Linked DNA regions of Homo sapiens. The protein of the gene in region 2 purifies or fractionates together with the protein of the main gene of each other region. This does not show direct contact. Each region holds a gene or a part of one and is shown on either strand. Other genes may lie near its edges. The genes, in order: RELT and IL17RD.

The links.
Region 1: the proteins of IL17RD (region 2) and RELT purify together in Homo sapiens (affinity purification with mass spectrometry; 2 studies listed by BioGRID and IntAct, with this or other methods). This does not show direct contact.

The regions. Positions count from the first base shown.
Region 1 is NC_000011.10:73,376,413-73,388,831, forward strand, and holds part of RELT (tumor necrosis factor receptor superfamily member 19L isoform 1 precursor), read left to right. Parts: 5' UTR 1-87; intron 88-255; exon of another isoform or gene 256-457; intron 458-12,419. UniProt on the Homo sapiens protein: May play a role in apoptosis. Induces activation of MAPK14/p38 and MAPK8/JNK MAPK cascades, when overexpressed. Involved in dental enamel formation.
Region 2 is NC_000003.12:57,152,294-57,164,712, reverse strand, and holds part of IL17RD (interleukin-17 receptor D isoform a precursor), read left to right. Parts: intron 1-10,657; exon of another isoform or gene 10,658-12,419. UniProt on the Homo sapiens protein: Feedback inhibitor of fibroblast growth factor mediated Ras-MAPK signaling and ERK activation. Regulates the nuclear ERK signaling pathway by spatially blocking nuclear translocation of activated ERK without inhibiting cytoplasmic phosphorylation of ERK.

The DNA.
Region 1 (12,419 bases), on a different chromosome or scaffold from region 2:
CTGCGCGGCTGTCCGGGCGCTCGCCGAGCCGGGCCGCGGCGCCGAGTCGAACGGGGAGCCGAGCTGGAGCTGCCGCGGCGCAGCCAGGTAAGGAGGGCGCGCGGAGCGCCCATCCAGAGTCTGCTCTCCGCGGCCGGGCCAGCGGGATACGGACCCTAGTGGCGCCCCCTGCCTCCCCGTGTCTCTGAGGAAGTTCGCGGGCTCGGCGGATGCGGCAGCCCGGCCGCGCGCCCCCCCACCCCACTCCTCCCGCCTCGCGTCCTGTCCCGGCGCCTTCCGCGCACCGGCCACCGCCAGTCTCCGAGCCCCGTGACCTGCAGGTCCTCCGGCCGCGACTCCGGGCCGGCCCTGCGTGGTGGCTGTCGGGGGGCGCGCGGGGAAGCAGCGGAACTTGCGGTGTGAGGGGCCGGCGGGGCCCGGAGCGGTCCCCGGCCCGGGAAACTTGGACCGAGACCAGGTTGTGGTGCGGGCTGGACGGCGGCGCCTCGGCGCGGCTGCGGCGCGGGGCGGCCAAGGGGGGGTCTGGATGGTGTCAGCCCGTGACTGTGGGTGACACGGCGCGTGAGGCGGCCTGGCCGGGCGAACGTGTGGCTGGGACACTGGGCGGTGACGCCGGGCCGAGCGGGCGACACAGAGGGGCTCTGTGTGTGGGAGACAGGCAGCGTGTGTGCGTGTGTTGTGTGAGGGAAAGACCCGGGGTCACTGGGGTCACGAAGTGCGTGGCTTGGGGCGTGACCGGCGCAGGGCCAGGGCCACCCGTTACTGTGAGTGTGAAATAGAGGGAGAGGAGCCCAAGTGACTGAGAACGAGCCGAGCTCGCTGGCGCCATGGTGTGCGTGTGGGGTCAAGTGGTGTCAGTGTGTGTGTGTGTGTGTGTGTGTCTGCGCCTAGGGTGATGATGAGTAAGAGGCAGGAGGAGGAGGGACCGGACCTAGGACACCTTCCGGCAGATGTGGGGCGATGAGGAAGTTGGGGAGCCAGGAGACAAGGGTCTCCAGGACTGTCCCCACGAGGGCACCCCTCAGGAGTTCAGCTTGGTGAGGAGATGGACCCTGAGGGATAGGCCCTGGCTGAGGGAGAAAGCCGAGGCTGGGCAACATCTGGTGGGGTGGCCCAGATGGCAGCAGGGTAGGGGCCCTGTGGTAGTCTCAGCTTCCCCCCGCCCACCTGCATCCACACACTCACGCATCGAAGTCCCTACACCTGGCAAAGTTCTGCCCCTGTGTAATCTGTATTCTCAGCGGACCCGGACACAATCTTGTTCTCAGACCCCCCCGCCCCCCTCCCCCGCGCAGGCCTCAGTCTCCCCATCTGCACACTGAGGTGCTGGGCTTTGAATGGACTGTGAATCATCACTTTGGGATCCTCTATTGTTTTGGGTCAACTGCCTGTGTTCTCCCTTCCCTTCAGGCAGAAAGACTGCAGTGGGGGGTGGGGGCAGGCTTCTCCTGGGGACACAGCGGCCCAGGGGCTGCACTCAGGGGCTACTGATAGGGTTGGAAGCACAGCCTTCTCCAAAACTGGTCAAGGAAACGTTAGCCTCCCACCCAAAGGCTTCCTGGTCCTCTGTCACGAAATGGATCCATAGACAATATGGATCCCCAAATCCATAGACATTCACTTCTCTGCCTGGGTGTCCTTTCTTCAGTTCCTTGGGTTGGGGGAGAGTGGGGAGAGACTTGTTCCCCAGGAGTGGTCTCTGGTCTGGGAGGCTAAGTTCTTGCTGGAGAGCTGGAGCGGTACCCTTTCGCCATCTGGGCAAGACCCTTCTGAGGCCCCTTCTCCCGTATGAAGGTCTGTGGGGTTCATGCAGGGTGGGGTGGAAGCTGAGCTCCCTAGTCTAGGAGAGGGTGGCACTTGCTGTAGAATCTGGAAGTTCTGTCTTCTGCTGTCGTCCTCTGAAAATGCTGATTACATTCTAGGGGTGGGGGACAGGGTGGGGGACAGTGTCAGGCACTGTTCTGAACACTTCATGGTGTTCTGTCTTGTTGAATCTTCGCAGTGATTCTGAGATGTAGTGACTGTGTTTCAGAGAAAGGAACTGAGGATCAGAGAAGCAAAGTGACTTGGCCAAGGTCATACAGAGTCAGGACAGTGCCAGGACTGGAATTCAGGTCTTCTGACCCCAGAGACCAGTGAGATGCTGGGAGAGAGGATCACCCACCTTCCTAATAACTGCTCATGGCTTTCCTGGACTTCTGTCTCTCAAACTTGGGCTAGTAGGCGTGGCCTAGCCAGGGCATTACATTGTGAGTTCTAAGTATGATGTGTGTGTGTGCACACATGTCTGGAACACTGGGGATGGGTGGGTTACATGGTCTTCCTGTTCCTCCCCAGACTTCACTCCCAACCAGACATCACCAGAAAGTCCTGTCCCCTGCCTTCTAGAGCCTGGACCTGGCTTTGGGGGTGTCCCCATGGCTTTGAAGAGTGTATGGAGTTAGCAGCACAGCCTAGGGGTAGCAGGGAAAATTGAGAGTCCCAGGTGACCTTCATCATACTTGAGAGGCCCCCTCCCCTTTGCAGTTGCTCTAGAGGCATTTCCCCAAATCCACCTGCATGTTATGGTGGGGAGCAGACAGGGAGTGACCTTGAGCTGGTCCCTACTCTCTCTGGGCCTCGGTCTCCCTGTTCTTCCCAGAGACCCCTTTTGGCTCTGACCACTGTTGCCACTTGGCCAAGAACTGGAACTGGGGATCAGGGTGTCCCTCGGTCCTCTCTGCAATGACTGGAGCTGTGCTTCTTGGGGCTGATGAAAATAGCTGTCGTGGTCTCTAGGGGCTGAGCCGGAGTTATTTCCATCCTCAACAAAGAGGTGGAAATAGCTTAGGGCCTGGGAGGGGGAGCAAGAGGAGAAGGGTTAACTTCTCCTTATCCCAGCCTTAAAGGAGGCCCCCAGCCTCAGCCTGTGCCCTGGCCAAGCCAAACCTTTCTGGGAACTTGGGCCTCTGGGGATGACAGTGGGGCCAGGCTGGGTTTCCACTTGTGACCACAGTTGGGACTGGTGTGATAGCTGCTGGAGGGAGGGCCCTATGTCTAGCCAAGGAGGGGAGATATTGAGGGCCAGTCAGCACCTGCCCCTACTCATAGGGTCAGGCCCAATCTCATTTCACAGAAGGAGAGATTGAGGTTCTGAGAATTCAGGGACTTACCCTAGGACTCCTAGAACCTTCACCTTCCAGACGCGGTACCTGCCTTCTGTCCTGAGTTTGTCATTCTGTGTCCACACTTTCCCTGGCGGCTGGAGGTTGGCCAGCACTGGAAGCAGGCCCAAGACACACCTTCTGGACGTCGGCCTGCCTCATATTCCAGCTCTGGCCTTGCCATCCCTGCCCAGGCTCTGGTTCTAGCTTCTGTGCTTCCACGTCGGCTCTCCCGCACACTGCCAGAGTGACCTCCATAAAATAACTTGCTTTTCGCCTACAAAGTGTAGTTCAAACTCCTCACCTGGCAATGAGGCCTTTCCTTCCAAGGCCTTTCAGAATTTGCATCTTTACCCTCGCCTCTCCTTGCCAGATGCCTTGTCTGCCTTGCCTTTGCTTTTAAAGCTTCCCTCTTTCTAGAACCCTCTTGGCCATCCAGACTATAGCCCCAGCTCCACCTCACCCAGGAAGCCCTCCTGGCCCGAAATTAGTCTCCCTTCATTGTTGTGGGCCACCTGCCAGGTGTCCTCCCTCACTGCTGGGGAATGGGCACAGGTTTGGGGCACCTGTGGGTACCGCATGCTCAGCTTGGTGGGGCCAGCGTGGCCAGTAGCCCACCCCCTCCCACTGCCGTCTCTGTGCTGACGAGACCTCTTCCTGAGGAAGGGCAGCTGCTCTAGGATCCCAGCACCTGTGTGCTGGGAGGCACCGGGAGATTTGCACCCAGGTCTCTGGTGCTCACCATGACCTGAGGCAGAATGTGTGCTGGCGGGTGGGGGCAAAGACTCACGGCCACTCCTGTGGGTAGGGGGCAAGTGTAGTGCTTGTCATGGTCCTCGACATCTTGAGCCAGTAGAGGCAACTGTCCCTGCTCAGGCCCTGTAGTGTGCCAGGCTCTGGGCCCAGCATTTCCTCACAACAGCACTCACCCGGGCCCTCTCCTTTCCAAGTTGGTATGGGGGAACCTCGACTCAGAGAGCAGCCCTAGGCTGAGTCACGCAGCCACTTGTGTTGTAGTCAGGTACTCCAGATCCTACCCAGCCCCCAGCCTGGTCTCCAGGCAGGAGGTGAGGGTCGAGGGGTTTGTCTGACAATTCTAACATTAGTTTCTCAAGAAGGGCCAGGCTGGTCAGCACCCAGTCTGGCTGGGCGGGACCTGACTACTTCTGTTATGGGGCCAGCCCTTCTGCCAGGTCAGCAGGAGAGAGGACCAGAGAGGAAGGGGTTTTGCCTGAGGTTACTCAGCAGGGTGTGTTTGGCGCCATTCCCCACTCAGGATCGATGGGGGAGCAGGGATGTGGTCTCTGGACAGGGAGAATACCCACTGTGTGCTGAACCCGTGTCTTTCTGGGCCTAGGCTTGGTGCTGCTGAGTGGGGCTGGAGTGGCAGAGAGGACAAGAGCCAATGCTGCATCCCTACTCTGCCCATCCGTGGGATTATGGCCCGGGAGGCTGTCACATCCTCAGCCTTATACTCCTGGGGGTCATCATTCCCTCCAAGCACAGGCAGGGAAACCAAGGCCTAGAGAGAGGAGGCACTTGCCAGGCCCCAGTGTCACTGGGATCCAAACCCAGGTCTGCTGGCCTTGAAGACCAGAGTTCTTTCCTAGGCCACTCTGGGAAAGATGAGAGCTCTATAAATAAGCTGCCCATGTGGCTGTGAGCAAGTGCCCTGGCTAGTTGTCACAGACAGAGGGGGACAGCGGGACCTCTACAGCCAGTTAGAGTCAGGGTCTGAGTGTGCAGGTAGAGAGAGGAGTGGGGGCTTCCAGAGGGGGGACCTGCGCTTAGCCCAGTGCATGCACTGTGAGGAGGAGCAGTGAGAGGGGAGGACCTTGGCCACCCACACCACCAGCCTGCTGCATGCCTGGCCTCCTGCACAGACCCTTTCCCTCCCTCCCTCAAGGAGCCTCACCCCTTCTCGAGGAATCAAGGGAGACTGAAAACTGATGGCAGGGGTGAGGGGTGGGGGAGTCTGGAGAGGAGAGGGGGCCCTCTTGACAGGGAGGCTGGGGAGGCTTCCTACAGGAGGGGATGCCTGGCCCAAGGCCTGATTGTAAGAAGAGCCCCTGTTGCCTGTGAACGCTGAGTCCTCCACCACACCATGAGGTCAGCTGCACTGGTGTAATTGGGAAACAGGCTTGGGAAGTTGGGGCTGGGTTCCTGACTGCTGAACTACCCCTTACATTCCTGACCATGGCCCTGGCTGGTGTGGGAGCAGGTGGACGTAGGCCTGTACAGGGGCTGGGACATGGGCACCCAGGGCCCTCCCAGAGAGGCCGAGGCCCCTCTACTTGTGCTGCCAGGGTTTACGTGGAGTTCCCCAAAGCACTCTTGCCACACCCAAGCCTCTGGGTGACCTCGGCTGGCTGTTGCTTGGTCCTGAGCTTGGGTTCCTCTGGCCCTCGTGGAGCTGTGTTGAGAGCCCTCAGTATCCCATGAGGCAGGGACTAGCACCCCTGTTTGCAGAGGAAGACCCCGAAACTCAGGGAGGGTAAGTAACCTGCCCAAGGCCATCGATCTGCGAAGTGACAGAGCCAGAGTCTGAACCCTGGTGGGTTGCTCCAGGGCCCAACCTTGTCTCCTCCCTGCTCCACCACTGCACTTGCACTGACCCCAGTCCTCAGCGTAGCTCCACTGGGTAGGACCTGACCTGGGATGGCCCTGGGGGCGCCTCTTTCCCCAGCACCGCAAGTCTGGGGAGAGTTGGAGAATGGGGCAGACCAGGGCTGTGGTCTCCCCCAAGTCCCTCCCAAAGCCTCTGCCCAGGTCTTCCAGGTCAGGGTGATTGGGGGCAGGGCCCATGCTGAGCACATTAGGGACTTGGGATCAGTTTTATGGCCGGGGCAGGTGGCAAAGGTGGCTTCTTGGAGGAGGTAGCAGAGCATGAGCCGGGGCTGCAGTGAGGTGTCCTTCAGCACCCCCAGACCCGTTGCTGTCCTGTCTCAGGGCCAGGGTTGGCAACACAGGGCTGTCTGTGGTGCTGAGAGGTTGACGGTGGCCAGAAGCAGTGGAGATACCAGGCCTGGGTGGCTCAGGCAGGGGTCGCCTGCCAGTTGCCCCTACTCCAGGGTAGGTAAACTTCATCTCCTTCAAGGTGAAGTTGTTACAGGCTACCACTTGACCTCTCTGAGCCTCAGTTTTTTCTGTGTGAAGCATGGAACACTGTCTTTGAGGGGTTCAGTGAGACCCAGCTTAGAGTGGGAAGGGGACAGGCAGTAGTGCTCAGTGAGGAGGGTTAGGGAGCCTCCTCTCTGCCCGAGATAACTGTCTGGTCTCAGACATCCCTCCTCTAGCCCCAGACTCGGCCCAGGAAGTGGGGCAAGGATTGCACCTGTACCATACCCAGACTGGGAGGAGCTGGGTGGGCCAGGTGTGGCCACCTCAGCCCTTTTCTTGGCCTCAAGGGGCCAATTTAGCCCCCTTAGCCTCAGCCCCACCCCATCCACCTGAGCCACTGAAACCCAGGCCTGGTGGCAGCCAGGAGGTCTGAGGTGCAGAACCATGCCCAACTTCTGGGGGTGTTGCTGAGAGTGGGCTGGGGAGCAGCTGCTGCCTGGCCTCGAGGTGCTCCCCAGCCCTTGAGGGACTGGTTTATACCCCATCGTGGTGACCTGGGAGCTCATGGCTGCCCAGGGCTGTGGGAGGGGGCAGGAGTGGAGCACCTGTCTCACTGAGTGGCCCTGAGCCAGCCTCTGCACATCTCTGAGCTTCCAGCAGCAGCCCTAGTAAGCTGGGGTTCCACCCTGGGACCTCTTTTTCCCCGCTCTGGGAATTCCCAGACTTCCCCGGTCTTCCTGCCTCTTTCAGTTCACAGCTCCCTTTCCTGCCAGAGCTGGCACAGACTAGAACAATATGCAAATGAGTATAGATGCAGGCAACTCCTAGAGGCCCCATGGGATGGCGGTGCAGACAGCACCTTCTCCTGGGGCCCTCCTGGGTCCTTAGTAACAGACCCTCAGTTGAGCCACCTACTGGGTGCTACTAGCTTGCTAGCCTCCACCATCAGGTTGGCAAACACTGCAAGGACATTTACTATGTGCCAGGTCCTGGGCTAAGTTGCAGGGCAAAAGGAGGCAGAAAAGAGACAGTCCTGGGCTCCATTCCTGCTTCATCTCTTACTGGCTGTGTGACCCCCGCCAGTGACCTCCCCTGACCTCAGTTTGCCCAGCTGTGAAACAGGAATGCTCACTTCTCCTGCAAGGAAAGGCAGCAACCCAGGATGAGGGCCCGGCCTGCACAGGGCTGGGGTCCATTCCTTTCCCTGTGAGTGTGGAAGAGGGAAAGCCACTCAGCGTGGTCGCTGCCCTACTTCAGCCCCACTTGCCAGGGAACCGCTGGGCTCCTTGCTAACCTGGATTTCTCTGTTGATGGGTGGCCTTTGTCTTCCTGCCTTGGGTGTGGCCACCGCCAAGGGAGGCCTGTGTCCAGCTGTGTTTCCAGGCAACCCTAGCCTCTGGAGGCCAGAGGGAGGTCCACAGGCTCAGGAGCCACTATCTGGGAAGCAGAGTAGCTGCCTCCCTACCTGCCCTCCTCCAGGTGGGCACCAGCCCCCACCTCCATCTCCCCCAGTGCGGCCTCTCTTAGCAGGCAGCCTGGGGAGCCTGCTGAGACCGAACTGTTCATTCTTCTCCATCCCTTGCTTAACCCTTCCTGGCTCCCATAGGCCCTAGGGGGAAGTGCAGGCTTTTTGGCAGGCAGCTGAGCCTTGGTGTGACCTGAGCACTGCCCACCAACCTTCCCAGACTCCTCCAGACTCCTCCCGTCTTCTCCGCCCTCCCACCCTCCAGATTCCCACCAGGGCGAACCCAGCACCGCCTGTATACCAGACTCTGTGCCAGGCACTGAACGTAAATAAAAGGTTTGTGCCCTTCTCCTCCACATTCCACACGTAGGGAAACTGAGTCACAGTGAAGTGTGGGGAATGCTTACTCTGTGCCAGGCCTGTGCTGAGTACTTAATGTGATTCTCTTCTTTCAGCCTTACCACAGCCCTCTGCAGGCAGGCCACAGAGCCAGTGCAAGACAGAGCAGAGCAGGACTGCACCCCATACTTTGTATCCCCAGGTTAGCCCAGGGGTTCAGATCTGGGTTCTGACCCACCCCAGCCTCTGGGCTCCTTCCCCCTCAGCCTGCTCACTGGCTCTTCTAGCTCGGCATAGCTGGGCTCTCTACCAAGAGTGCCTTTTCTGCCTTCTCCCCCAAATCAGCCCATACCCGCCCAGGTCGGCACTGGGCATGGAGCAGGCAGCTCGTGGTGGGGAAAGGGCTGGGTAATAGGATCTGCATGGCACCATGAATGCTGAGGGGGAGGTGGGGGAGAGGGTACTTCCAGGAGGAAGTGACTTCGAGCTGAGCTCTAAGGAAGAGTGGGTGCTGGCCAAGCGATGAGGGGAGAGCAGAAAGCAGGTGCAGCGTGTGTGAGGGTGGAAAGCACTCAGCGTGGCAGGCGTGTGGGTGGGGGAGGTTGGTGGGGGCGCGTCACGACGCCATCCTGAGGGTGGTGGGAGCTGGCCCAGGGCCAGGGCCAGAACTGGGTGTCAGGGCACCTAGGCTGCAGGGCGGGACTGACCTGGAGGCCAGAGACAGGGCAAGGGGGCAAGAGCAATGGGCGCAGGCCTTGGGAGAGCTTAGGGACTGTAGGGAAGGGGAGGGCCCTGCCTAGGGGAGGGGGAGTGGCGTGGCAGGGCCCGGGTGACCCCAGCGAGCTTCAGTTCTGGGAAAGGGGAAGCTGCCTGTGGCCTGGGCTGGTGGCACAGCTTCCTCTTTCTCTGAGGCCTCCAGGCTGCACCTCCCTGGGGCTCCACCATCTGTGGCCTCAATCGTGGTCTGGGGCCCTCAGCTTGGGGGTCTGGCCGTGGCCTTTGCTAGTTGGCTTTTCTCCAGGGAATTTCTGGTTCTCATTGTTCGGGCATTTTTTTGGAGAGCTGAGTCTGAGGAAACCCTCCCCGCCTCGTGAGCCTGCTTGGAGGCCTCCCGCTTCAGACATGGGGCTGGGTGTGGAGTTTTGTGGCAAATAAAACAGACGTCCCTGCCCTCACCACTGTCTGGTGGGGGAGCAAGGAATAAACAAGTAAGCAAACAAATACTTAATCACAGCCCTCTGCCAGCAGGGCAGAGGAGAAGGGCTGTGGAGAAGGAAATCCCATGACCTACTTTAGCTTCATTACCTCCTTTAAACCCCATGACTGGCTGGGCACAGCGGCTCACACCTGGAATCCCAGTACTTTGGGAGGCCAAGGCGAGAGGATCGCTTGAGCCCAAGAGTTGGAGACCAGCCAGGGCAACATAATGAGACCCCGTCTCTACAGAAAATAAATTTAAAAATTTAGCCAGGCATGGTGGGGCATGCCTGCAGTCCTAGTTACTCAGGAGGCTGAAGCAGGAGGATCACTTAAAAGTTCAAAGTTGCAGTGAGCTGTGATCGTGCTACTGCAGTCCATCCTGGATGGCAGAGTGAGACACTGTCTCAGAAAAAACAAAACAGAAATTCCCCAAAAACTTCGCGACAGCCATGCCAGCAAGATGAACGTCCCCATCTCTGTAGATGAGAAAACTGAGACCCAGTGATGTGAAGGTCCCAAAGGGAGTTGGTGGCAGTGGAGACTGGGCCCCAGGCTAGGAGACATGGGAGGAGTGGCCTCTAAGCCAAGTTCCTTCTCTGCTACCCCCCTGGGGCCCCTCCTCCCCATCCAGTGTGGCTGGGTGTGGCTCTCCTCTGTCAGGCATCGGAGGCTCTGGGGCCTCACTGACTGCCCAGCCTTTAGGATGAGGCAGAGACGGATATGGGACCTTCAGATATCCCCTCCCAGCCGAGGGGGCTTCCATCTAACTGTTTTTTTGGTCACGGTTCCAGGGCCGTTTTAGACAGTGGAGGCCTTGTGGGGCAGGGTGTGAGGGGTGCTGAGCAGCAGGTGTGGACATGTGTGTGCACCAGGCCTTTCTACCTGACCGGGCAAGTCCAGTGGGGGCTCAGTCTGGGCTGAGTGTGGGGGCCGGGCAGCCAGACTGGAGTAAGTGCTGGTTTGGGGTAATGAGAAGGTGCGTAATTAGAAGGTGCAAGGCCCTAGGTGGCAGTGTCTATGCGTGTGCTGGAGTGGGCCCTCGTTGGCTTTGAGTCTGGGCCTTTGGACCCCGCTTTCTTCCTGGAAGGTTCTAGATCACACAGCTCTGCGTCTGTCTGCAGATGAGCAGCTGCACAGCTGCTCCCTGTGGGCTCAGGTCACCTAGCAGGTGCCACCCAGGGTTGGGGTGGTTCTAGGGCTCTCTGCTGTGGTTGCTTGGCCTCTTTTCACCCCCGCATCAGCCCTCTGGGCCTACCTTGGGGACATGGAGGGCTGCTAGAGCTGGGGGCTGGGCTGTTGGGTTGGTCACGGTTCCCCCTGGCTTTGTCTTTTTTTTTTTTTTTTGAGATGGAGTCTTGCTCTGTCGCCCAGGCTGGAGTACAGTGGCACAATCTCGGCTCACTGCAACCTCCACCTCCCAGGTTCAAGCGATTCCCCTGCCTCAGCCTCCCGAGTAGCTGGGATTACAAGTTGTACCACCACACTGGGCTAATTTTTGTATTTTTACTAGAGACGGGGTTTCAGCATCTTGGCCAGGCTGGTCTTGAACTCCTGACCTCGTGATCCACCTGCCTCTGCCTCCCAAAGTGCTGGGATTACAGGCGTGAGCCACCATGCCTGCCACAGCCTGCCCCCACCCCCAGCATCAGGCTCTGTCTTGCGTAGTCAGGCCTAGTGGGGAAGTGAAGCCTGAGGACTTGGGGCTCGTGGTCAGGTCTGTGGGTTAGATCCCTCAAAGGACAGAGGAGGGGCCATGGGGAGACAGGCTCGAGGTGGGAGCTGGGCCCTGACAAGGGCACAGGACACTTTGGGGCAGAAACTGGAAGGAAGACTTGTGACCAAATTTAAGGAGTGACAGGGGACCCTCCCCAAATAGCCTGGGGGTGCCATCTGTTGGGTGTTGACTGCCAGGTGTGGCCTCCACCCTATACTGTGGCCCTACCTTCTCCTGTCCCTGGCTTTCCCCTGAGCTGGCCTGGGACCCAGAGTGGCTGCCAGTGACCTGGAGAGTCCTGAGATGATGTAACTGCTGCCCACTCCCTCCCCTGAGTGTAACTCAAACCCTGGGCCCCTCTGAGATCTGCCAAGAGGGAGGGCGGGTGGACAGATCGGTTTCCTGGGCTGCTATTCTAGGTGGGAGGGCCGGGCTGCCTGCAGGGAGAGGACTCTGAGTGATTTGGGACTACCACAGGAGGCGCTTTTCTCACCTCACCGGCCTTGGAGTCACAGCGGGGGCCTCAGCCGCGGCGGCCCTGAGCCAGTGGCTGGGTTCCCAGGCTGCCCCTGGGCTTAAGAGGCTGCGTGTGGCCTGAAGAGCACGGCTTTCCTCAGCCTCGTGCCCCTGAAGCCAGGCCTCCAGGAAGTACACAGCGGACTTCCTTGCTCTGCCACCTGTCCCTTCTGCTGTCTGATGTGAATCCTTTGTCCTGCTGTGTCCGCCTCGTCCACTGGCCGGAGGCTTCTCCAGAGCAGGCCACCGTCTGGGCCTGGGGGCCTCAGTCTCAGACCGGTGGGCCGTGACGCCACCATGGATATTTCTCTGAAGTATCACACACTGCACTCCCACTCTGCTTTATTTCGTTTCTTGGCACTTACCACCAAATGGCAGGGGCACCTCTCTGTTTGCAGTTGGGTCTCCCCTGGGATGGAGCTCCCTGCAGACAGGGACCTTGTCTGTCTTGTTCATACCGATTTCTCCAGTGCCCGCACGCAGTAGGTGCTGGAGAGATGACAAAGACAGAGCACTGGCTGCCGTGACCACCCCAGCCCCATAGGTCTGCCAGGGGAAGAGCTGTGGCCAGACATGTTCCAGCCTCAAGGGAGGAGTCAGCCTCCCTGGAAGAGGTGTGGACAGTGGCCATGCAGAAGGACCAGGACCTAGATGGGGTGGGGAGCTGTGGGAGCCAGACCCACTTTGGGGAAAGCTTCTAGAGAAGCTTCTGGAAAGAGAGGCCTTCGTGTTGAGCTTTGAAGGGTAAAGGAAAAGGCCTTCCTTGGACCAGAACCAGCAGGAGTGAAGGCAGAGGCCGGGCATGCTTGCAGACCTGTGAGGAGGAGGCGGGGGGAGCCTGAGCCTGGAGCGCTGGGCTGGAGTGTGGAGGCCGGGCTGGGGTGTTGGGTGTTGGTTGCAACCCTGTCATCACGGACACAGGCCGCCACACGCGCTTCCTTCCCCTGCTGATGCCTCGGGGCACCTGGCAGTTTAAGGAAGG
Region 2 (12,419 bases):
CCCGGGCGGCCGGAGAGGGGACTTGGAGCACCGGGGAGGGATGCGCCCCGCTCTTCTAGTAGCTTTGTTCCTCCTCGCCTGGGGCCGTCACCCCACTCCTACCCCTCCTCTGACTCCGGGACCTCCTGAGAAACTTCGCCTCCCGGTTCAGCCCTTCGTCTTGTGAAGGTCTCGCGGCTGATATCCTCCTTCCCTGCTTCGAGTTGCGGATATTTTTCCGCCAAAGGGCCGCGTGGGTGTCATCTGGGTGAGGTGCCTGAGACGAGACTGGAGAGGTGCCCAGACTTTCGCCGTGTGCATTGAGCCGTCTTCGTGGAACCGAGCGCTCCTTTGACACTGTCTGGGCGATGGGCGCGGGTGATTGCCATTCCCCTCTCAGCTTCCCTGCTCCCTACCTGGGCTTCTGGCCTTGGGCGGCCCCAGAACCTGGAGATGATGTCCGTCTGCCCCGAGTCTCCCACCGAGGCCCGGGTGGGCCCGGCGTCAGGGCACTCACGGCCTTAAGCTTGTGGAGAAAACGTAGGCTTTGCACTCAGGCAGCAGGGACATGACCTTGGCTCTGCTCCTGGGGAGCCATGAGCCTCAATTTCTTCATATGAAAAATGGGATGAAATGAGAATTTCCTTAGTATTGCTGGGCTGAGGGATAGGTATGGAGTGGTTTGCTTAGGCGAACGTTGACTCAGCCTCTTCTGGGTGGCTCTAAACAGCCTCAGCACAGCCAAAACCTAGGACATAACACTCCCTTAGGCACGCAGGCTGGTGCCTCCAAGCTCACTTGCCCCACAGTCCCAAGAAATGTGGTGCAGAAAACCAGGTGTGAGCCAGACAGCTGGGATGTCTTCAGACTCAGTAGCTAAGCTATGGAGACGGCTATGACCCCTGCTCTGCCTCCGCCCCCGCCACCCCCTTCCCCCCCCGCCCCCCCGCCCCATTAGGCTCTGTCATTCCTTCCTAGTTGAGTAAAGCATCACATTTTCTTACTGTGTTCCATTTCAGTAAAACATTACTGCTCTTGTTTTATTGTTTAAAAAAATTTTAGTAGCTAGCAAGTTTCCTCAAGGAGGATCTCGTGTTGACTTAAGGATCCTACTAGAATTTTGGATTTAGACTCCTATTGGCTTTTGAATGACTACAATATCACAGGCGTTTTATTTTGAGTGTTCATGTGATGGCGTAGGTAAATCAGTCCGATTCACTGTTTTGCTGCAGTTGCCAAGGTGGCTTCTTATGCCACTGTACAAAACTCGTGAAGTTTCCATGCTGTGGGGTATGGTAGTGCCCTGACGGAGCCAGGCTGGTGATTTTCTTCTACCTGTGCGAGTGTGTTCTCCTCTCCCAAACCTGCACCCTCATAAAATGGTGGCTCTGTCCCAGTCACCTCACACTTATGCTGACGTTTTCTCCACCACAGCCCCTAGTTGGGGGTGACTTTTCTCAGCTGCTCCTGCCTTGGCCCCACCAATCGTTTCCTTGGGTCATCCTCATTCGCCTCCTGGACGATCGTAGAGGCCTCTGGGCCATGTTCCAGATTCCAGGCTCATCCAGGCTGATACATGGTTCCTTGTCTCCTGGATTTGCTGCTTGGTGGATTTCATGGACCCAGTTTCCCCACATGCTTTGCATTCCCACCCTTTCCAGCCTCACCCCCTACCCTTCTCATCCTGCTCCTAACTCCGGATGGATGCCCTCTGTGCTTCCAAGACATGCTTTTCCCTCCTCCCAGGATGCCTTTTCCTCCCTTGAGAATTCCTTGCCTATCTTAAGACTCAGTTCAGGTGGTACCTCCTCAGGGAAGCCCTCCTGAATGCCATGCCCCTTGCTTTACCTTCTCATGCAGGTCCTTGCACTTTAGTCTCATCAGACAGCTTTGTCAGTATTTGTTCACTTCTATGTCTTCAGACTAGTTTCTTTAGCCAGGCACTGAACCTCATCTTGGTGGCGTCAGAGCCCTGTAAATATTGGCTGAACCAAATTAGACCCTGCTGCCTTCCTGCTAAATCCTGTATTTCCTGATAGATTTTAAGAAGTAGAGGCAAAGATCAGGGCATCAAGGTCCATTGTCTTTGCACATGCTGTTCCTGCCTGTGTTCCTTTACACCTCTGCAGCTTCCTTTCTCGGCCCTAGCATCACTTCTGCAAAAAATTGTCCCTGTCCACACCTCCCTAGGTCATGTCTTCTAGAAGTTGCTCTGTCAGGGAGTCAGCTAGGAAGTACTGGTACACAGTGACTAGAGTATTTGATTCATGTTTGGGTCCCCTACCAAATAAGAGGTACTTAGTCCATAGATGTTGGCCTCAGCTCTAAGGTTGCTTACAGTGGGGCTGTAGGAACATAAAAGGATAAGGGTCGACTATATGTGATGCAAATCAGAGGAGGCTTTCTGTGGGCCTGGGCCATACTCAGAACCTGAGAGGGGGCAGCAAGGTGCAGCACCAAGTCCTGAGAAACTGGATTTAGGTGCTGGAGCAGAGCTGAGCAAATGACCCCCTTGATCTCCAGGCAACATTTGTTTCAGGAACCCTTGCCCTTGCAGGAATGTGTATTTTTGCAAGACTTGCAAGGTGACTACAGCCAGCCAACCCTCTGCAGCCCTGCTAACAGACCCTTCGGGGCTGCTCCCAGAGGAGCCATGGGCTGGCCTGGTTTAAGTGGTCAGGTTTCACAACCTCCCCATTATTAGTGGGGCAATTAAGAGGCTGATACCATCTTGAACACAGGTCAGTGTTTTAGAAATGAGTTGTGGGCACACTTCCTCAACTACTTAAAAAAAATTCTCTTAGGGTCCTTGCCAGGTAAGGTTGCTCTTTGAGTAATAAATACTGTGTTCACACAGAAGTAATGATTTGTAAAACCTCCAGAGGGACCACACCATCCTCATTTACACTGGCTCTTGCTTCTAGAGTGGAATGGTTTTGTTTGCAACTAGAAGCAAGTTTGGTTCATAACTTTAATTGTGTCAGTCACTCATACTGAAGTTCTCCCTCCCCTTGTCTTGCTGGTCTAGAAGCCTTTTTATGGAACAAGGAGTTAGGAATCTACTCCCACAGGTTTGTATTTAGTGGCTTTTCCTGCAGTGGGGGAGGAGGGAACATTTCTTGCCTCCTTACCTAAATGGGGTCCACCTTCTCTGGTCTATTATCCCTGGAACATAATTCCTACTCCCCCTGCAAGAAAACACTACTCCTTCAGGAATTCGGGAAGCCAGGATGCTGGCATCATCTTTACAATGAAATGCAAGTTTCCCATTTAAGGCAAATACTTCATCACAAAAGGTAGGAAGGAATAGGGTGGTACTTGGAAAAGAGAAGTTCCAGCTGGTTAAAATTTAGGTTCCTGATAAAAGTCCAATCCAAGAATTATCCTTGGCTGTGGGCCCAGACATGTTTATTTGATTCTGAATTGGATGCATTTTCATTCACTTGCAGCTCATGGCTCCTAAGCCCACATCTGGTCTGCCTATCGTATGGCCATGTTGTCCATGTTACAGATGCTCTTGTGTCTGTTACAGAATTCTTGGTTAAAAAATTACTCAGTCCTGGTTGATACATTTTTTAGAGAGACGTTTTTATAAGCAGTGCAAAGCTTTCTTCCAGCCTGTTTTGCCTAGTTAATTGGGAACTCTTCTGGCCCATGTCCATCTTTCTTGAGCAGCCCTCCCTTCTCTCCCCAACCTCAGCCATCCACCCAACCCCAAGCCCCTGCAGTGCCTGGGGCATTGTGCTAGTTATTAACTTGGGCATATAGCTCCGTGACCAGGAGACCAGCAGTTAACTTTTTCTCCAAGTGACACCCTGGGCCTTCCAGTATCAGAATTGCCTCAGGAGCTTGTTAAAATGCAGATTGAAAGCTAATGGGATCAGAGTGAGAGTGAGGTGGAGCCCAGGAATTGGCATTTTAACAAATTCTTTTGAGGATACGCATGCTGTAACCAGGATGAGACCTATTGTTTTAGGGGACAGGGGTCCCACAATCCAAAGAAGGGGAGAACACACATTCTAAACATTTAAAATCAGAGTTTGGCTTTAAATTATGTCACTGGCCTTAGAGAAGAATGTGAAGACTTTCTCAGAGCCCTGACCGATAAAAGGGGTCAGGCTGGGTGGGGAGTGTGAGGATGGGAGGAGCAGGGAAGCGGGGCGGGGGAGAAGCTAGTTTGGATGGGTGCCTCTGGCCTGGGGCAGATGAGGAGGCCTGGAGTGAAGAGGACTTGACACTTCCCCTGAGTTCCTCCCTAGAACAGCTGGGTTTGTCTGAAAACAGTCTCAGGAAGGAGTAGCACAGGATCCAAATCAGATTCTCAGCAGTTCAAATCTTACAACTTCCCAACAAAGGAAAGAACTGCTAGTGCTTTTAAGTATTTTTCATGCTTCATTTGGCCTAAAACATGTTTTTTTTTTCTTTTTTAAAGCTTTCAAGGCTTTTTCTTCCTCTGTCCCTGAACTTTTTATATACTGTGCCCCAGCAGGTGTCTGCTCCTGCTGGGGCTACCCCATCAACAATTTTATTGTCCTCCTTCATTCCCCGCTGCCTCTTTTTTTGAGACGGAGTTTCGCTCTGGAGCCCAGGCTGGAGTGCATTGGCATGATCTCAGCTCACTGCAATCTCCGCCTCCCAGGTTTAAGCGATTCTCCTGCCTCAGCCTCCCGAGTAGTTGGGATTACAGGCGTCCACCACCACACCCAGCTAATTTTTGTATTTTTAGTAGAGACAGGGTTTCACCATGTTGGCCAGGCTGGTCTCGAACTCCTGATCTCAGATGATCTGTCCACCTTGGCCTCCCAAAGTGCTGGGATTACAGGCGTGAGCCACCGTGCCTGGCCCCCCACTGCCTCTTCAGCCTGCTTCTGATGGATGGGTTTTTAGGCTTCTAGAACTTGAGCCTCCACCCTTGATTTGTAAGAATGTGGGGTGAGGAGAGGGCTCAGCTATCAGGGAGCTTGACAGGTTGAGAGGTGCAGTGGCCTTAGAGCAGACCTCTCTCTGGCCACCCTGCCCTGGCAGCCAGACCTTTTCCATTTCCCATCTACTCCCAAATTTGGAGAGCTCCTGCCCTCAGTCAGCCGGGGGGCTGTCTGTGCTGGAGCTACAGGCCCCATCTCCAGCCAGCCAGACTTGCCCAGCCAGTGGGAGGCATTGTCCTCCTGGGCAGTGTTTGTCTTGGCTGCTTGGATGTTCTGAATGGGCCTGACACACGATTAGGTGACTGATGGCCTCCGAAACACATTGTCTCCTCCGGGGCCCACAGCCTTTGAAGCTCTTCCCGGTGGGAAGTAAAGAGACTATTTGCTCTATTAAAATGCCTTGGTATTTCCTCTGTTTAACCACAGGCCACTTCCCCTCTGCCACTCTAAACCCGGCAGGGCCACCGGCTGATTGAAAAGACACAAGCCCTCAAGTGATCACATCCTATTGAAACAGATAGTCTTACTGCAGATTAAAGCTAGGGCCAGTCTTGAAGAAACAAATCCAAGGGGGGAATCTTTGAGATGGCCCATTATCTTGCTCAGAATTTAGTCTGTTGAACAGAATTCACACTTGAAGTCCTGAGTGCATAAATGTAAATGTGTCTTTAAAAAAAAAAAAAAAGAAGAGATATCGACATTGTAAATTAAGTCAGTGTGTGTTTTATCTATATATGGCAGGTTAAAGCAATCCAATCAACAATTTCTCATTGTGTGAGTTGGAAACCCTTTGGTGTCTGGGAAGGGCATGTTGTCTGTTCATAGAAAACCACACCCTGCTGCTTTCTCTATTTGCAGATTCTACCTGTTCAGTCATATGCTGAAAAGTCCAAGTAAGAAAGAAGTCTGTAGCTTAAATAATACCAAGAATATCTCTGGGGAGACTCCTTCATCCTTTCCCAAACAATATATTAAAAGAAGGCTTTTAATTAATAACACCAGGCAGGAAACTAAAAATTGAACAATTTAAAAAATTACCTACATAACAAAAACTCCATTTGTACCATGTTTTTGTGAAGTGGCCTAAAAAACGAATAACTAGTTTCTAATAGAGACTGTTAACATTGATGTTTGCAACTCCATTGTTCAAAGTATCCATGATAAAAATGGATTCCCTTTTCTTTGGTTCCTTGTTTGGAAATGTTGGGGGAAGGTGGATGTAGCTAATTAAGGCTACAACATTTAAAGGGGGGGACTTAATAGGTACCAGCTGTCCTCAACAAATCACTGGGTGGACGACAAAATAAAGATGTGATGTGAACACACATGTAATTCTCTTCTAAAACGGAAATGGGCTCATAAATTTTCTGATTTAATAGTGTAAATGAAAACTACCTCTACTGTGCTTATTTAAGAAGCATTCATTTTATGGTAAAACTAATGCTAAAATGTCTTATTTGCATATGGCTGGTACCTTAAGACTTGAAAGGGCAGTAGATGGCAAGTATTATTGGAAGCTTAGTAAATTGTAATTTTATTGTACCTTTCTTCATTCCATACCTGATCTAATAGACGTTAATCATGAGGCTTTTCATTAAAACTACTACATGGTAGGGAAGCATGCTTGAACGTACCAGAAAAGCCATATAAAATTCAAGTATCAACTTTGAAAACGGAATGGAAATTGGTAGCATTAATTAAAATGTTTGGATGGATATTTACATTTCACACATTAAATGAATACTTCATATGAATCCTTTTGAAATCATGAGGGATTAGGCCTTAAATACAACTTTTTTTCAGATGTAAAAAGTACTTTATTGCCTTCAAAACTAGGAGTTTTTCCAAGTGTTCTGTTTGGTCATTTTTGTAGATCTTTTCCCCCCATTGAATAGTAACCCTTTAAAAAATGCTGGCAGTGTCCCCAGACTTCTGTGCTGCGATGGACTGTTTTACTCGAGAGTGGGAGGGTTAATGGGATAAAGGGAGGGCTTCCTTGGAACGAAGAGGTGTGTTTTCCTGAGATAGGCCATATGGTTTAGAAACCCTTTCCCTGTGATTTTATTCTGTCCGGGTGATTTCTGGTTTCTTCTCTCCCAAAACGGCCCCCTTTTATCTGAGGAAAATGCAGTGCAGTATGGACCAAATGTAGCAGCAGTCCGCCGCCTGAGCGTGGTCTCTGTTGAGTGACGGTTTATGGCCCCTTCCTCTGGAGTGTGCACATTTGCTCTGGGTGCAGCACAGGCACTCACACGGTTAGGATTTATTGTAACTGTTCAGTATCTGAAGCTCAAAAAGACTTATTTGGAGTGAGGAGGCAGGAGACCCTTTTTTTGAGCAGCCACCCTGTGTTAGGTTGTGGGACCAGTCCCCCGTCCACAGTGGCTGCCTGTCTGGGCCAGGAGCAAGACAAAGGAGTAGGGGCCTGGACAACAGGGAAATTCAGGAAGAGATTCTGGGGCCACAGTACCGAGCACTCCCCGTCCTCTCTCCACACTTCCCTACTCATTCCAGAGAAACTTGAACGGGCTTCTGCTGCTCCTCATCCTAGAACTGCCCCCGTGAAAAGCAGTTTGTTGACATTCAACTGCCTGAGGCCCTGCTTGAGGCCACCTTAGAACTCTGGCTTTTTAGCCCATGTCTCAGTTGGTTCCCAGTATCTCTGGCTTTTTGCTCTGCCTCAGTTTCCCCTGCTTTGGAGGAGGCCCCCTTTTCTCTGTGAGGCTTCTCCATACCACTCTCTAGCTTTCCCATGTGCCACAAAGCCTGGCCGACCCCATCATCCCTCCAGATTTCATGAGAATGTGTCCAAACATTGCAGTGATGCATTGAGAAACAAACAAATTTGATGTTTTTATAGGAAGAAATTGAATTTCAATGGTTCGTGGGAGGCTTAGATGAAGAAGACAGGTCTTACCAAAGGGACTTTGAGCAGGGCCTGACCAGTGAGTGGACCCAGGCGCTGGGGGGACAGTTTGGGCAGAAAGTAAGATGTGGGCAAAGCTGGAGAAGGGGGCTCATTGGTCGGGGGATGGTAAGGTTGAAGATATAGGTACTAGATAACAGGGCACCTTGAAGTTTGCCTGTGTATGTTCTGTCAGAAGTGGTGAGGCTTGGAAGATTTCTCCAACAGGTGAACGGTTTGATAAGAGGGACACTCAGTGGCCATTCATTCATTGAGTGAATATTGGTGTGTTCTGTGTGTTAGGTCTGATTTCTAGAGCTTAGATTTTATTTTATTTCCAGAGACAGGGTCTCTGTCACCCAGGCTGGAGTGCAGCAGTGGCGTGATCATAGCTTATTGCAGTCTTGAACTCCTAGGCTTAGGCAATTCTCCTACCTCAGCCTCCCGAGTAGCTGGGACTACAGGCACGTGCCACCAAGTCTGGCTAATTTTTTACATTTTTTGTAGAGATGGGGTTTTATTATGTTGCCCAGGCTGGTCTTGAATTCCTGGCCTCAAGCGATCTGCCCACTTGGGTTTACAGACATGAGCCACCATGCCTGGCCAGAGCTTAGGTTTTAGTAGGGGAGACAAATAGGATAATGAAGTATCAGACCTGACCATGCTCTTTCCAATAGCAACTTGCTGCTCACTGTCCTCTTTTCTTCACTTTTTCTCTGCCGAACTTTTCACCTTGGGACATACATAGTATTTTCTTTGTCCATCCTTCTTCCCCGTTGCAGTGTCAGCTCCATGTGGGTGGGGTCTTTACCTGTTTTGTTCCCTTCTGCATCACGAGAACAGTGCCTGGCACATAGTAGGTTCTCCATACATGTTTCTTAAATGACTAAGCACTCTACAGGAAATTAAAATGAGGCAATAAGAGCAATGGGTGTTTGCAAGTAGACACTCTCCAATGGCCTCTCTGAGGAGGTGACATGTCAGTCAAGCAACTGTAATAAAAAGTTCCTCTGGGCAAGGAGTGGTGGCTCATACCTGTAATCCCAGCATTTTGGGAGGCCAAGGCAGGCGGATCACCTGAGGTCAGGAGTTCAAGACCAGCCTGGCCAACATGGTGAAACCCTGTCTCTACTAAAAATACATAAATTAGCTGGGTATGGTGATGTGCACCTGTAATCCTAGCTACTCAGGAGACTGAGGCTGGAGAATCACTTGAACCCAGGAGGCGGAGGTTGCAGTGAGCCAAGATCGTGCCATTGTACTCCAGCCTGGGCAACACAGCGAGACTCCGTCTCAAAAAAAAAAAATTTCCTCTGAAATTGCTTTCTTAACATTGGCTAATCATGTGGCAGTTAGTGCTGAGAGTAGCATAAAAAATATGCTTAATTTATTCATTCACACCACAGTTATTGGCACTCCTGCCAGGGGCCACATACTGGTTAGAGGCTGGGCTTCAAGCCAGGTTCCCACTCATGACAGGGAGAGTGTGGGCTGGTGTTGTGTGGGAGCCACACCTGGCCGAGTGTCTGTTGCTTGAGGGGGTTGCTTGGACTGTCTACTTTACCCTGTGCTGTGGATGAGAAAAATGTGAAAAGTTACTGCTAAGCACTAACTAAGCATCCCGGTTTTGGACTTTCTGAAACGATGTGAACGGAACAAATCTCACTCCCTGGCAGCAGCCCTCAGTTTGTATGAAACTTTGTCTTCTTAACAGAGGTGCAGGTCTCGTTTTTGTTTGCTTCGTTCCCCTCTGGTGGTGAATGCATTTCATTTTCTGAAGCCACTTGAAGGTCTGTCCATAATCAGAGGTGCTCTTTGCCTTCTTTCCGGGGCTGCGGATTTGCCGGCCAGCTGTGGAAATGAGTTTTTGCCCGGCTTTGATTTTCATGCCTTGCCTCCCCGTGGGAGGAACTAGATATTTCTGATCTTACCTCTGCTCATATTCAGATCCAGCCAAGCAATCAGTGACTTCCCGGGCTTTTTTGTGGGAGACTGTGGGAAAAGTCCTGGTTGGCTGGCTATGAATTAATGAAATCCTTAGAAGGCTTCACTAAAGATAGCTCCTGTGGCTTACAAAAAAAAATGGCATTGCCTTTTTAATTTGAGAAGGACGTCATGGAGTTTTACCAAAATTAAGCAGAAAAAATGTAACATCTGGTTGTGCTGGCGGAAGACTGCTTCAGGGCCTCTGGAGCTATGAGTTCCCAGTGCTGGCATGCCCAAGGTGACTGTCACCTGCCCCTATAGTGCTGCTATGGACAGGCCGCCTCTCATTGTTCTCCTCCTTGGGTTTTGAAGTCATTGAGAGACAAATTCTACCTCCCACATCTTTTCACTTGAGCACATTTCCCATCTACTGAGCTTTCTTATTTTACTTAAAGGGTCACACATTTTTAAAAGTACAGAGTTTTCGAGTTGATCAAGACTAGTGTAATCATTGCTTTTATCTCATTAAAAAAGGATGGGGGTAGATAATGGGGGCAGCAGGCCAGCGAACTTTTAAAGAGTTCTAAAAAGGAGAGTGAGAATGGTAAATTGCTGGAGAAGAGTTTTAGGGAAAGGCATATAGGAGATTTTAAATGGATTTATGACGTGTATGTATGTGTGTGTGTGTGTGTGTATATATATATATATATATATATAATTTTTTTTTTTGAGACAAGGTCTCACTCTGTCACTCAGGCCGAAGTGCAGTCATGCAATTATAGCTCGTTGCAGCCTTGAACTCCTGGGCTCCAGCAATCCTCCTGGCCCAGTCTCCTGAGTAGCTGGGACCACAGGCGTGTGCCGCCAAGCTTGGCTATTTTTTTACTTTTTTTTTGTTAAGACAGAGTTTCACTGTGTTACTCAGGCTAGTCTCGAACTCCTGGCCTCAAGCAGTCCTCCTGCCTTGGCCTCGCAAAGTGCTGGGATTACAGACATGAGCCACCATGCCCTGCCTAGAGCATACGTTTTCTGAAACGATACAGGAAGATGAAGTTGTTGCCATCCCAACCCCCCAACCCCTCAAGCAGGCAGCTAGTCACCTGTACAAAATACAGGTATATATAATATATAAAATGTAAATATAAATGTATATAGTGTGTAAAATGTATGTATATAATGTATAAAATACAGTCACCTGTATATTAGAGTCCCTTACAGCCCCACATGGGGATTCCCCATTATTGTGCTCTTTCTCCCATCCTTTGTATTCTGAAAATTTTCGAATCTGTAGAAGAATTGAAATAACAGTAAAATGAACACCCATTTCCCCTTTGTCTAAAGTTACCAATTCATAACGTTTTGCTACACTTACCTCACTTGTCCTTTTAATGTCATTCATAATTTCTTTCTGCATCACATTCTAGGGGGCAGAGAAGGGTCACTCATTGCTTTTTGATGTCCTGTCTCTTTAGCCTCCTTTAATACAGAACAGTTCCTCTACCTATTTTTCGGTCCTTTATAGCCTACACATTCTGAAGAGTCAAGGCCACTTGTGTACACAATTTGGATTTTTGATTGTTTCCTCATGAATAGGTTCAAATATTTTGACAAGACCCCTCTAAAGGTGATATTGTGACTTTGTTGGATTTTACATATCAACTGGTAACAAATGTAGATGCAGTTTTAGCAATAAGAAAAATTTGTTTTTTCTGTGTGAAATTGTTGTATTTAGAGATCTGTGCTAATAGTAGTACCCAGTTTAGTCTTGTGTTGTCTTTTTAAAAATGCAGTGTTTCACATTAAGCCTTCCCTTTTACTTTATTGAGAGTCTAAGGAAATGCAGGATGTCATTTGTGCTATCCTGTAATAAACTTTTTCCTTAAAGATTATTTGAAATCAACCACACTGTCTCAAAATGAGGAGTGCTATTTCTCAAGAATGCTCAAGGCTTTTGCTATTCACATGGGCTTGTTGCAGTTATAGATGTCGCCCTCAGAGACGGGGAATGAGTTCCTATTAAAGACCTGTGTTTGGCCGGGGCAGGTTTACGGTTGACTGCTTCCTCACACCAAAATTCAGCCATTTCTTTCCTTTGTGCTAAGAAAACATTGAACTTTATTTCCAGTAAAGGCTACTTTACTAAAAACGTATCCTCCAAGTCAGTTTCTAGCCTTTTAGTTCTGTGATTGCATGTTACCTACATTATTTTATTAGAGTCCGTTACAGACAGTTTCATTAGTTTAACTTGAATTATTATCTTCTACCTAATTACATGGCTTTTGTTTCTTTCATTTTACCCCACTCCAGATTTAAGGGCCAAGACATGTAAAGTTAATATTGGTCATTTTTCAAAGTAAGTTAAAATGTCAAAAAGCAACAAGTTGTTATTCTTACAGGGTACCAGGGAAACAACAGAGACAAAACCTCCATCTTTTATTCATAAGTCCAGAGAGACTACGAGGGCGCAGGCAGGCCTGTGTGCCGGGCGTTTGTTCAGCTTTCAGGACTGGGCCTCCTCCCCTGCTGGCCATGAAATGTCATGCCGAGATGTAATAGTGGGACATTCAGCATCCAGAGAATGGTCCGCAGAGATTCAACTTTGCTTTTCATTTTCTTTTCTGGCACCAAGTCCACAGTCCCCTCTGTGGCCTGACAGTGAAAGGCCAGAAAGCAGCGATTTAGAT